Linked DNA regions of Homo sapiens: regions 1 and 2 are each reported to be linked to region 3. The links are microRNA targets in miRTarBase. Many come from high-throughput screens and were not tested one by one. Region 3 holds a microRNA gene; each other region holds the end of a gene's coding sequence.

The links. The annotated mature microRNA hsa-miR-4786-5p reads UGAGACCAGGACUGGAUGCACC and lies in region 3 at 1,905-1,926, opposite strand. An mRNA with a match to its seed (bases 2 to 7 or 8) in the 3' UTR can be bound and repressed. Matches are read on the target gene's strand: a 7mer-m8 pairs with bases 2 to 8, a 7mer-A1 pairs with bases 2 to 7 and ends in A, and an 8mer does both.
Region 1: miRTarBase lists MPI as a target of hsa-miR-4786-5p. Seed matches in the 3' UTR shown: 7mer-m8 at 1,612-1,618 and 8mer at 2,725-2,732.
Region 2: the mRNA of COX6A1 is a reported target of hsa-miR-4786-5p. Seed matches in the 3' UTR shown: 7mer-m8 at 922-928.

The regions. Positions count from the first base shown.
Region 1 is chr15:74,897,143-74,900,383 of GRCh38, forward strand. It overlaps MPI (mannose phosphate isomerase), which reads left to right. Exons shown (of 8, transcript NM_002435.3): 7 at 1-77; 8 at 370-3,241. The coding sequence ends at 588. It overlaps FAM219B (family with sequence similarity 219 member B), which reads right to left. Exons shown (of 5, transcript NM_020447.5): 5 at 2,850-3,241. Among named protein-coding and RNA genes, the nearest start is that of FAM219B, 8.1 kb to the right of the region's middle. RefSeq lists an enhancer at 1,570-2,069.
Region 2 is chr12:120,439,752-120,442,994 of GRCh38, forward strand. COX6A1 (cytochrome c oxidase subunit 6A1) reads left to right here. Exons shown (of 3, transcript NM_004373.4): 3 at 703-979. The coding sequence ends at 786. Among named protein-coding and RNA genes, the nearest start is that of COX6A1, 3.3 kb to the left of the region's middle.
Region 3 is chr2:239,941,159-239,944,410 of GRCh38, forward strand. MIR4786 (microRNA 4786) reads right to left here and starts at 1,936; the gene lies at 1,857-1,936. It also overlaps a transcript of NDUFA10 not described here.

The sequences.
Region 1 (3,241 bases), not on the chromosome of region 3:
CAACACGGAGTCAGGAAGACCCCTACCTCTCAATCTATGACCCCCCTGTACCAGACTTCACCATTATGAAGACGGAGGTGAGTGAGGGGCTATGATGGGTGTCCTTCGTGTGCCATGAAAATCTCTGGCAAGGGTCACGATGTGGAGGACACCTGGGGCTGGGTTTCCTGTCAAGCCCACTTGGCGGAGGGTGGCCCCAGGGCCTGCCCATTCCTTCCTGTACCAGGGACCAGGCCTCTATGCTGACTGAGCCTGGGTTGTGCGAGAAGGTGGCAGAGCTCTCCCTCGTGCCCTGGGGACTGTCCTGGGCCCATGAGCTGATGAGAGCAGAGTCTGAGCTGCACTGCCTTATCATTTCTTCCTGCCCAGGTCCCTGGCTCTGTCACTGAATACAAGGTCTTGGCACTGGACTCTGCCAGCATCCTCCTGATGGTACAGGGGACAGTAATAGCCAGCACACCCACAACCCAGACACCAATCCCTCTGCAACGTGGTGGCGTGCTCTTCATTGGGGCCAATGAGAGTGTCTCACTGAAGCTTACTGAGCCGAAGGACCTGCTGATATTCCGTGCCTGCTGTCTGCTGTAAAGGCTGCAGCCTCCCCAGCTCTCCTCTGCCAGCCACCCTAAATTCCAGCCAACCTCACCTCCTCGGGCCCAGCTCAAGCCCCCTTCCTTGCTCTGGACCCCTTAGGTATACCCTGGAAGAGCTGGGGTGGGGGAGGAGGGAGCGTGAAGGTAGTGACTCCTGAACACACCCAGGTGGAACCATCTTTGGGGAGGAGAGGCCCGTGTGAGGGGTCTGATACTCCCTTTGTCTTCCCTCTCTACTCCTCGCTACACCTGAGCCAGGCTCTTGCCAACTCTGTTCCAGCCTATGGCTTTAGGCTAGCTGTTAAATATGTGACCCAGCATTAGCTCAGCATCTGTCAGAGCAAGAGACCAGGTAATTTCTAAGAACAGGGTTCTAGCGATGGGACTGCCCATTTCCTCAGCTGCAGAGGAGGAAAGGGAAAGGGTAGGCCTGTAGACTAACGCTGTTTACACCCTTGTTCTGTCAAAGCAATTAAAGATCACTTGTGTTGAGGCTGTGGGGTAATGAGCACTCAGCCTTTGGGGTACCTGTTCCTAAAGTGGGCCAAAAGAGCCCTCCCTACATGATGCCCCAGTTTTTGCTTTATTCCTATTTCATACAGCTTCTCGGGGGAGTGAGCAGGCTACACTCCAGAACACCGGTATGGGAAGGAGTGGGAGAGGAAGCCAGCTTTGGCCTCACAGGCACAGCTTGCAAGCAGGCCTTGGGTCTGCCCAGAGGCACAGCTTGCAAGCAGCCCTACAGAGAAGGTGACTCAAAGGATACACCAGTCACCAGTGCAAGACTCTTCGCTCCTGTTTTTCTCTTTTTTTTTTTTTTGAGACGGAGTCTCGGTCTGTAGCCCAGGCTGGAGTGCAGTGGCACGATCTCGGCTCATTGCAAGCTCCGCCTCCCGGGTTCACGCCACTCTTCTGCCTCAGCCTCCCAAGTAGCTGGGACCACAGGCGCCCACCACCACGCCCAGCCAATTTTTTTGGTATTTTTAGTAGAGATGGGGTTTCACTGTGTTAGCCAGGATGGTCTCGATCTTCTGACCTCGTGATCCGCCCACCTCAGCCTCCCAAAGTGCTGGGATTACAGGCGTGAGCCACCACGCCTGGCCCGGCTCCTGTTTTTCAACTGGCCCTAGAGGAGGGGTCCGCAAACCAGGCTGGCAGGCCAGTTCTGGCCATACCTGTTCATTTCCATACTGTCTGGCTGCTTTCAAGCCACAGTGGCAAAGTTGAAGAGTTGCACTAGACTGTACGGCCTGCAAAACTGAAACCATTGACTGTCAACCACTTCTCTACAACATACTCAACTGTTGCAGATTACAGGGACTCAGGAACCGAATTAGACAATTTTCATGGCGAGGAGAAGCCCAGTTAGCTTTCCTAAACGGGCAGGAAGTGTGAAGGAGGGAATCTCCTGATGCCCTGCTCCAGGGGTGGCACACACCTGCAAGAGGCTGTCGGCTGTCTGCTGCTGCTGAGGTTTCTGACCTGCAATCGTAGATCCTGTCACCACAGACTAATCACTTAGTCCACTGGCTCCTTCCTGTGGGATAAAGGTTTAAATTCATGCAAAAGAATCTTTCTGGGCTTCTGCCCACACTAGAGTCCCTATACAATGGAGTTCCAGGAAACCACCTTCAAAAATCTCCTGGGTTTTCTTGCCTCCAAATTTTCTTCAGCTAAAAAACAATAAAGATGAGCTGGAAAGAAAAGGTCTGCTAAAGGGAACCCATTCTACAGAAGTGACTTGCAAGAGCCTATTTCACTCATGCCGTCCAGTGAAACAGGCCCGAAAGTGATGCCCAGTGGGAACAGCAGAAAGGGGAGGGAGTTTCCAGAAGGAATTGCTGTAGTCAGCTGTTAAGCTATTTCTTCATTTCAGGATATCCAGGATATTCTTAACTTTTATTTTTTTGAGACGGAGTCTCGCACTGTCTCCCGGGCTGGAGTGCAGTGGCGCGATAGCTCACTGCAACCTCCGCCCACTGGGTTCAAGCGATTCTTCTGCCTCAGCTCCTGAGTAGCTGGGACTACAGGCGCCTGCCACCACACCCAGCTAAGTTTTTGTATTTTTAGTAGAGACGGGGTTTCAGTAGAGACGGGGTGACAGGATCTACAATTCCAGGTAAGGTCAGGTTGGTCTCAAACTCCTGACCTTGTGATTTGCTTGCCTCAGCCTCTGAAAGTGCTGGGATTACAAGCATGAGCCATTGTGCCTGGCCAAGGCCTTTAAAATCCACTGCAACACAGACACAGCTCAACTAGTGTGATTGCATTTATTCTTATAAATGTACAGAGCTGTAGAAGTGCAAGCCAAGAGTTCTATAGAGTAGTACATAAACACCATATGGTACCACTCCTGCTGGGAGGTAAGCCTGGATACACCCCTCTCCTCAGGAAACTGTCACCTGCAGAACACACAGCACTCAGAATTAAGGCAGTTTGGCCCTGGGCACATTGGTGGTATTTTGGTATGTGGCCACTGGCCCTAAACAACTGACCATTTCTACCCTGCCTCACTGCACTGTCCCACCAGGTCCCTCCAGCTTTTTCTACAAGGTAACACCCTCCTACATGGGGTCAGCCAGCTCAGAAACCTCTTCTTCAGGGACAGTTGCAGCTGAATATGCCAGAGCTGATTATTACAACAACGA
Region 2 (3,243 bases), not on the chromosome of region 3:
CACTGTTGACATTTGGGGCTGGGTAATTCTTGTTGGGGGGCTATCTTGTGCATTGTGAAATGTTTAGCCATATCCTTGGCCTGTACCCACTAGGTGGCAGTAGTACCTGCGCAACCCCACTCCCGCTTCCCCCTCCCCCGCCCCCATCACAGTGTCTCCCGATACTACCCAGTGTGCCCTGAAGGGGCAAAATCACCCTGGGTTGGAGACCGTTGCCCTAAAGTAATGCTTTTCAAAGGTAATAGGCAAGATAATTCAGGGTGGGCTGCAGTTTCCCAGCCCAGATATTGTTTGAAGTCTGGGATGGTGCCAGAAATCTGCATTTAATTAAGCATCTCCCTCCCCTAATACTGCCACCATTTTGATATAGGTGATTTGAGGATTACACTTTCATAAACACAGCACTGGATATACTAGTTACTAGGGAGAGGATGATGAGTAACTAACTTGAGCTTGCATTTTCTGCCATCCATATTTGTTTCTGGAATTAAAACTGTCCTGTAGCCAGGATAACTTTAAGGGCTCCCCTGGTAGTTATAAGAGCTCCTTAAATAATGGGAAGGTTGAACTACACCAGTAGATAAAGGACTAATTTCCATTTTGTTTTTATATATGATCTGTCACCCCGTTATAAGCAGTTCATGACGGTGTTCTTTCTAAATTATTTTCTGGAATTATCTAACTGACATCTTCACTCCACAGCCGTTTCCCTGGGGAGATGGTAACCATACTCTATTCCATAACCCTCATGTGAATCCACTTCCAACTGGCTACGAAGATGAATAAAGAGAATCTGGACCACTACCCGGGCACCAGGGACCACAGCACTGGTTTGGACCGTTACTCTGCACATGGACCAGAAAAAGTATATGGGACCTTAAGCTCACCTTCTTTACTTGTATCAAATGATGACTGGTATACTGGTCTCCCATCCCTTTGCTTGTGGCAGGAGATGGCTTAAATAAATAACTTAAATTTAGATTGGTCATGAGCTGAGAGTTACTTTCTTTGGTTGTGTTTTTTCGCAGAAATTAGCATTTGAGCTTCAAGTCAGTGTCCAAGTTGAAAAGAAATTGGCATTAGTTATTTCTGTTTCCACAGTGAAGGTCTAGGCTGCTGTTTAGTGTTACAGGTCCAATTCAGCCCATTGAATAAGTGTTTATAACAGCCCCTCTTGGTTTATTGTGCCTGATGTGGATAAAGGGACCAAGTGGAGTGGTGCTAATTAAGCATCAAGATTAGTCCTTGGTCAGGTGCGGTGGCTCATGCCTGTAATCCCAGCACTTTGGGAGGCTGAGGCTGGCAGATCACCTGAGGTCAGGAGTTGGAGATCAGCCGGGCCAACATGATGAAATCCTGTCTCTACTAAAAATACAAAAATTAGTTGGGTGTGGTGGCGCACTCCTATAGCTGGGTGTAGAGGCTTGAACCCGGGAGGTGGAGGTTGCAGTGAGCCAAGATCGTGCCACTGCACTCCAGCCTGGGCAACAGAGTGAGACTCTGTCTCAAAAAACAAAAGATTGGTCCTTGACGGGCCTGAGATATCAAAGACATTGAATGGCTAGCAGAATGCCTGCAATTTACACCTGAAAGAGGTATCTGTATTTCTCAAGAGGAAGTGCTTGATCTGGGTCTCATCTTTTTCCTGTCCCATTCCACTAGCATTTACTGCAGAATCTTCCCTGTAGTCATAATTTTCTTGAACATGTCAAGTTCTTTTTTTTCTTTTTTTTTGAGACGGAGTCTCTCTCTGTTGCCCAGGCTAGAGTGCAGTGGCACGATCTCCACTCACTGCAAGCTCTGCCTCCCAGGTTCAAGCCATTCTCCTGCCTCAGCCTCCCGAGTAGCTGGGACTATAGGCACCCGCCACCACACCCAGCTAATTTTTTGTATTTTCAGTAGACACAGGGTTTCACCATGTTAGCCAGGATGGTCTCGATCTCCTGACCTCGTGATCCACCCGCCTCAGCCTCCCAAAGTGCTGGGATTACAGGCGTGAGCCACCGTGCCTGGCCTCGAATGTGTCAAGTTCTTACTTTGAGGTAATCTCCTTCAGGGCTGGTAGGGTCAGAAATCTTAAGAGAAACAAAGGGAGCGTGACACATTTCTGCTTATTGGCTTTTCTGTGGAATTAAAACTATCCTGCTTTAATGGATAGTAAATGGTAGTAGTAGTAGTTACAAAACCACTCTGAGAGGGCAATTATTATTATTATTATTATTATTATTTTTTTTTTTTTTTTTTTTTTTTTGAGATGGAGTCTCGCTCTGTCGCCCAGGCTGGAGTGCAGTGGCGGGACCTCGGCTCACTGCAAGCTCCACCTCCCGGGTTCACGCCATTCTCCTGCCTCAGCCTCCCAAGTAGCTGGGACTACAGGCGCCCGCCACTACGCCCGGCTACTTTTTTGTATTTTTAGTAGAGACAAGGTTTCACATGTTGGCCAGGCTGGTCTTGAACTCCTAACCTCAGGTGATCTGCCCACCTCAGCCTCCCAAAGTGCTAGGATTACAGGTCTGAGCCACTGTGCCTGGCCAGAGCTGGTTTATTTTATTTTATTTTATTTTTTGAGACAGAGTTTCGCTTTTGTTGCCCAGGCTGGAGTGCAATGGCATGATCTTGGCTCACCACAACCTCCACCTCCCAGGTTCAAGCAATTCTCCTGCCTCACCCTCCTGAGTAGCTGTGATTACAGGCATGTGCCACCACACCTGGCTAATTTTTTGTATTTTAAGTAGAGATGGGGTTTCTCCATGTTGGTCAGGCTAGTCTCAAACTCCCAACCTCAGGTGATCTGCCCACCTCAGTCTCCCAAAGTGCTGGGATTACTGGCGTGAGCCACCGCGCCCAGCCAGCTGGTTTATTCTTAAGGCTCAAAGGAACACTTTCGTGGTAAGGTTCAAGAGGCAACAAGGTATTTCATATTATATTACATTAAACTGGTAACGCAAAAGTAAGGCATATACAGTACGGAATAGAGAATCTCATTGTCTTTGCCATTTTGTAATAATTAACGGAATAGAGAATCTCATTGTCTTTGCCATTTTGTAATATTACAGCCTGCACTTCTGAGTCCCTATAGAGCTGTTTTGGTTGTGGCCAGTCTGAGTTTAGGACAGATGCATTATACTTCAGCTTGCTGCCTGGCCTCCCTTGGCTGGGTTCCAAACATCTTTTATAATCCTTGGATAATGGACCCTAGCCAGTCATAAAATATAAATGAAGAATGTTTTGAAATGACATTAA
Region 3 (3,252 bases):
AGGCAATAGACGTATGACCCATAACCATTTACGTTCCTTAAAAATGCAAACACACGAAACAACACATTATGTCAGAACATATGCAAACAAAAAGATCTCTCAAGCACAGGGAATGCTGGCCTCCCTGGACAAGGGCAATGGGAGTGGCACATAGGGTAAAGTATCTTCACAAACAGGGACAGACACTTCCCACGCCCGATGATGTGAATGCACCGGGGGCACAGAACTGCGGCTGTTCCACCCTCGGTGTCAGAGGTTCCTTCCTCGACATCAAAACGACAAAGTTCAAGGACGTGGTGGCTCACACCTATAATCCCAGCACTTTGGAAGGCCAAGGCGGGCAGATCACCTGAGGTCGGGAGTTGGAGACCAGACTGGCCAATATGGTAAAACTCCATCTCTACTAAAAATACAAAAATTAGCTGGGCATGATGGCGCACGTTTGTAATCCCAGCTTCTCAGGAGGCTGAGGTGGGAAAATGATTGAACCTGAGAGGCGGAGCTTGCAGGGAGCCAAGATCGCACCACTGCACTCCAGCCTGGGCAACAGAGTAAGACTCTGTCTCAAAAAAAAAAAAAGAAAAAAAGGTTCAAGGAAGAAAGGAAAAAAAATTCCAAATTCCTCTCTTCAGAAAAACCATCTACATCAGTGAACAACATCCTGATATTTTTATGCCTGTATATCAACAGAAACACAGGTATGCTTTCATGAAATGGGATCTATCAATGCTATTTTAAATTACATTTAATTTATTTTAATATCAGTTTTCAACATAAGCAAATGAAAGTAAAACTAGTGAATTTTCTGCACCAAAACAGTATGGACCTTAGATTTTAAAATCCTCTGAAATGAGAAAAACAAATGGATTCTGCATATTGAAAGATCACACCATGTGTGCACAAACTATTTCACTTGGAATCACTTTGGTCTGAACACCAGTGATTCTTTTGCCGGACTGCCTTTGTCCACCTTCCTATAAATTAGTTTTACATATACAAAGTTCACAACAGTTTTCATCCCTCTACCACGTTTACCTTTACTTACTGTGGCTGTCTTCAGCCTTTCCTCTAGGGCAGCGGTGTTCACGCGGTAGTGTGCGCTGCAATCACCTTGCTAAACACAGATGCTGCTGGGGCCCACCCACCAGGGCGCCTGAGCCAGCAGGCCTGGGTGCAGCCTAGACACCTGCATTTCCGACAAGCTCCCAGGTGGAGGCTGGGGCCGCTGGTCCAGGAGCCACACTTGGAGAACGATGGATTTCTGTCAATAGCAATTTCAGCCTTGCTATGTCGTTTGTTGCTGTTTGAAATGTATTGGTTTGGTTCTGACACTGTTTCGGTTCTGTTTGCTTCCTGAGGTCTGACATCTTATTTTCATTTCTTAGTCTTATACGTTGTTGACATTTATTTTATTGAATTCATGTTCTTATCAAACTGTTCTCTTAGGCAAAGCACAGGAATATTTTTTTTTTCTGTTCACGAGCTGTGCGTCCTCTGCCTTCCGCATGTTTATCTTGCGCATGCTGTGGTCCCTTCTCCAGCACTGAGTCACGGGTTTCTCTGTGGGACGTTTGCCTGTCACTTGCCCTCCCCTTCCCTGCCTTTCCATTCTCTTCAAGCCCGAGCAGCTCTGACTGGGTCCTCATATGTTTTAACACAGCACTGGAGGGGTTTTAACTCTTTCCACAAAACCTGGCAAAGGCTCGTCTTCCCCTCTTAGCCACAGGAAGCCCAGGCAGTTTGTGTTCAGGCCACCTTCGGGAAGCCTGCAAGGATGGTGGTGGCAGGAGGAGCTCAGCCGAAGTGGAAGAAGGTTCGTTCAAATGCTGAGGCTCTGCTCCTGCTTCTGGAATCCTGTGAAATGGCCCAGACCAGAGCTGGCTTCACCTCATCACAGGGAGAGTGGTGCATCCAGTCCTGGTCTCAGGCCATGCCCACAGGCCAACGCATCCCTGGAGCCTCCACTTCTTACGGAGAGTTTCAACTCACAGTTATCTTCCCATGTCTGCCAGAGGCATTGCAAGACTCCCTGTCTCCAGATCCCAAGCACAGAGGCGGCCTGGGGCTCCGCTTGTGTACCAGTGGGACTCAGGCTTGGTGGCAGGTCAGAGCCACACGAATCTGCCTTCTGCTCTACTCTGAAATCTTTTGCTTATTTTATTGGCTACTAATTTTTCTTTCTTTTTTTTTGAGATGGGGTCTCACAGTGCCACACAGGCTGGATGGAGTGCAGTGGCGCAATCAGAGCTCACTGCAGCCCCAATTTCCTGGGCTCAAGTGATCCTCCCGCCTCAGCCTCCCAAAGTGTTGGGATTACAGGCGTGAGCCACTACACCTGGTCTTTGGCTACAAATTTTCAAAGTGTATGGCCTTGTTTGTTTTCTGCTGGGATTATTTTTCTAGTTTTTCCTTTCTATTCTGTTAGGGACTGGGGGCAGGACACTGTGATTCCGCTTAATCCTGCTGTCTTTGACATTTTTTTAATGTCCATGAGCAGGGACAAATCTTAGTCTCATAAGAATGTGCCTGATTTGGGAAGCAGGCCTCACTCAGCACCGACCGCCCCTCCTGGCACAGCACTGGCATCCCCTGGTGTTCCATAAACACAGAGACTGAGAGATGAGCAGACGAGTATGGGCCCTGGATGCTCCCTGCAGCCCCTCTGCAGAGCTGGACCTGCAGTCCAAGACTCCTTGGGGATGAGGGGTCTAGGGTTTAGTCCCTGTCCCTGGACAGTGATGGAGCTAAAGGCATGGGGCAGCGTCTGTCCCTTTTATGGGGGGAAGCTGAGGCTGCTGGGGGCAGTGCCTGTCCCGAGATGTCCCCAGACTCAGGTGCTCTGCTCCTTCCTTCCCATAAATCCTGGGCCTCCCCTGTGTCCTAAGGGCCTGCGGCCACCTGGCTAGTCCTGTTGCTGGTCCTCCTCCAGGTGCAGGGCACCGGTGCCCGCAAAATGAGCCACCCTGCCCCTGACCACTGCAGCCAGGCCCCTGAGAGGAGGCACATGACTCAGCCCACCCCCTCCTGGCATTGTTATCCTCCTGCCAAGATCCTGAGGCCATGCCAGAAAGGACCTGGGGCCAGCCTAGACCTTTCCATCATTTCACGTAGGCAGCAGCCTTGCCAAAGTCCCCGGGGGCAGAGCGGCTGTTTGGGTCTGGCGTCTGCTCCAGCCTGGCGTCCCCCATGCTGAGTGTGGCCCCAGGGCCAGCGCCGCAGGCTGAGATCCCAAGGCTGCATCTCTGGCTCGGA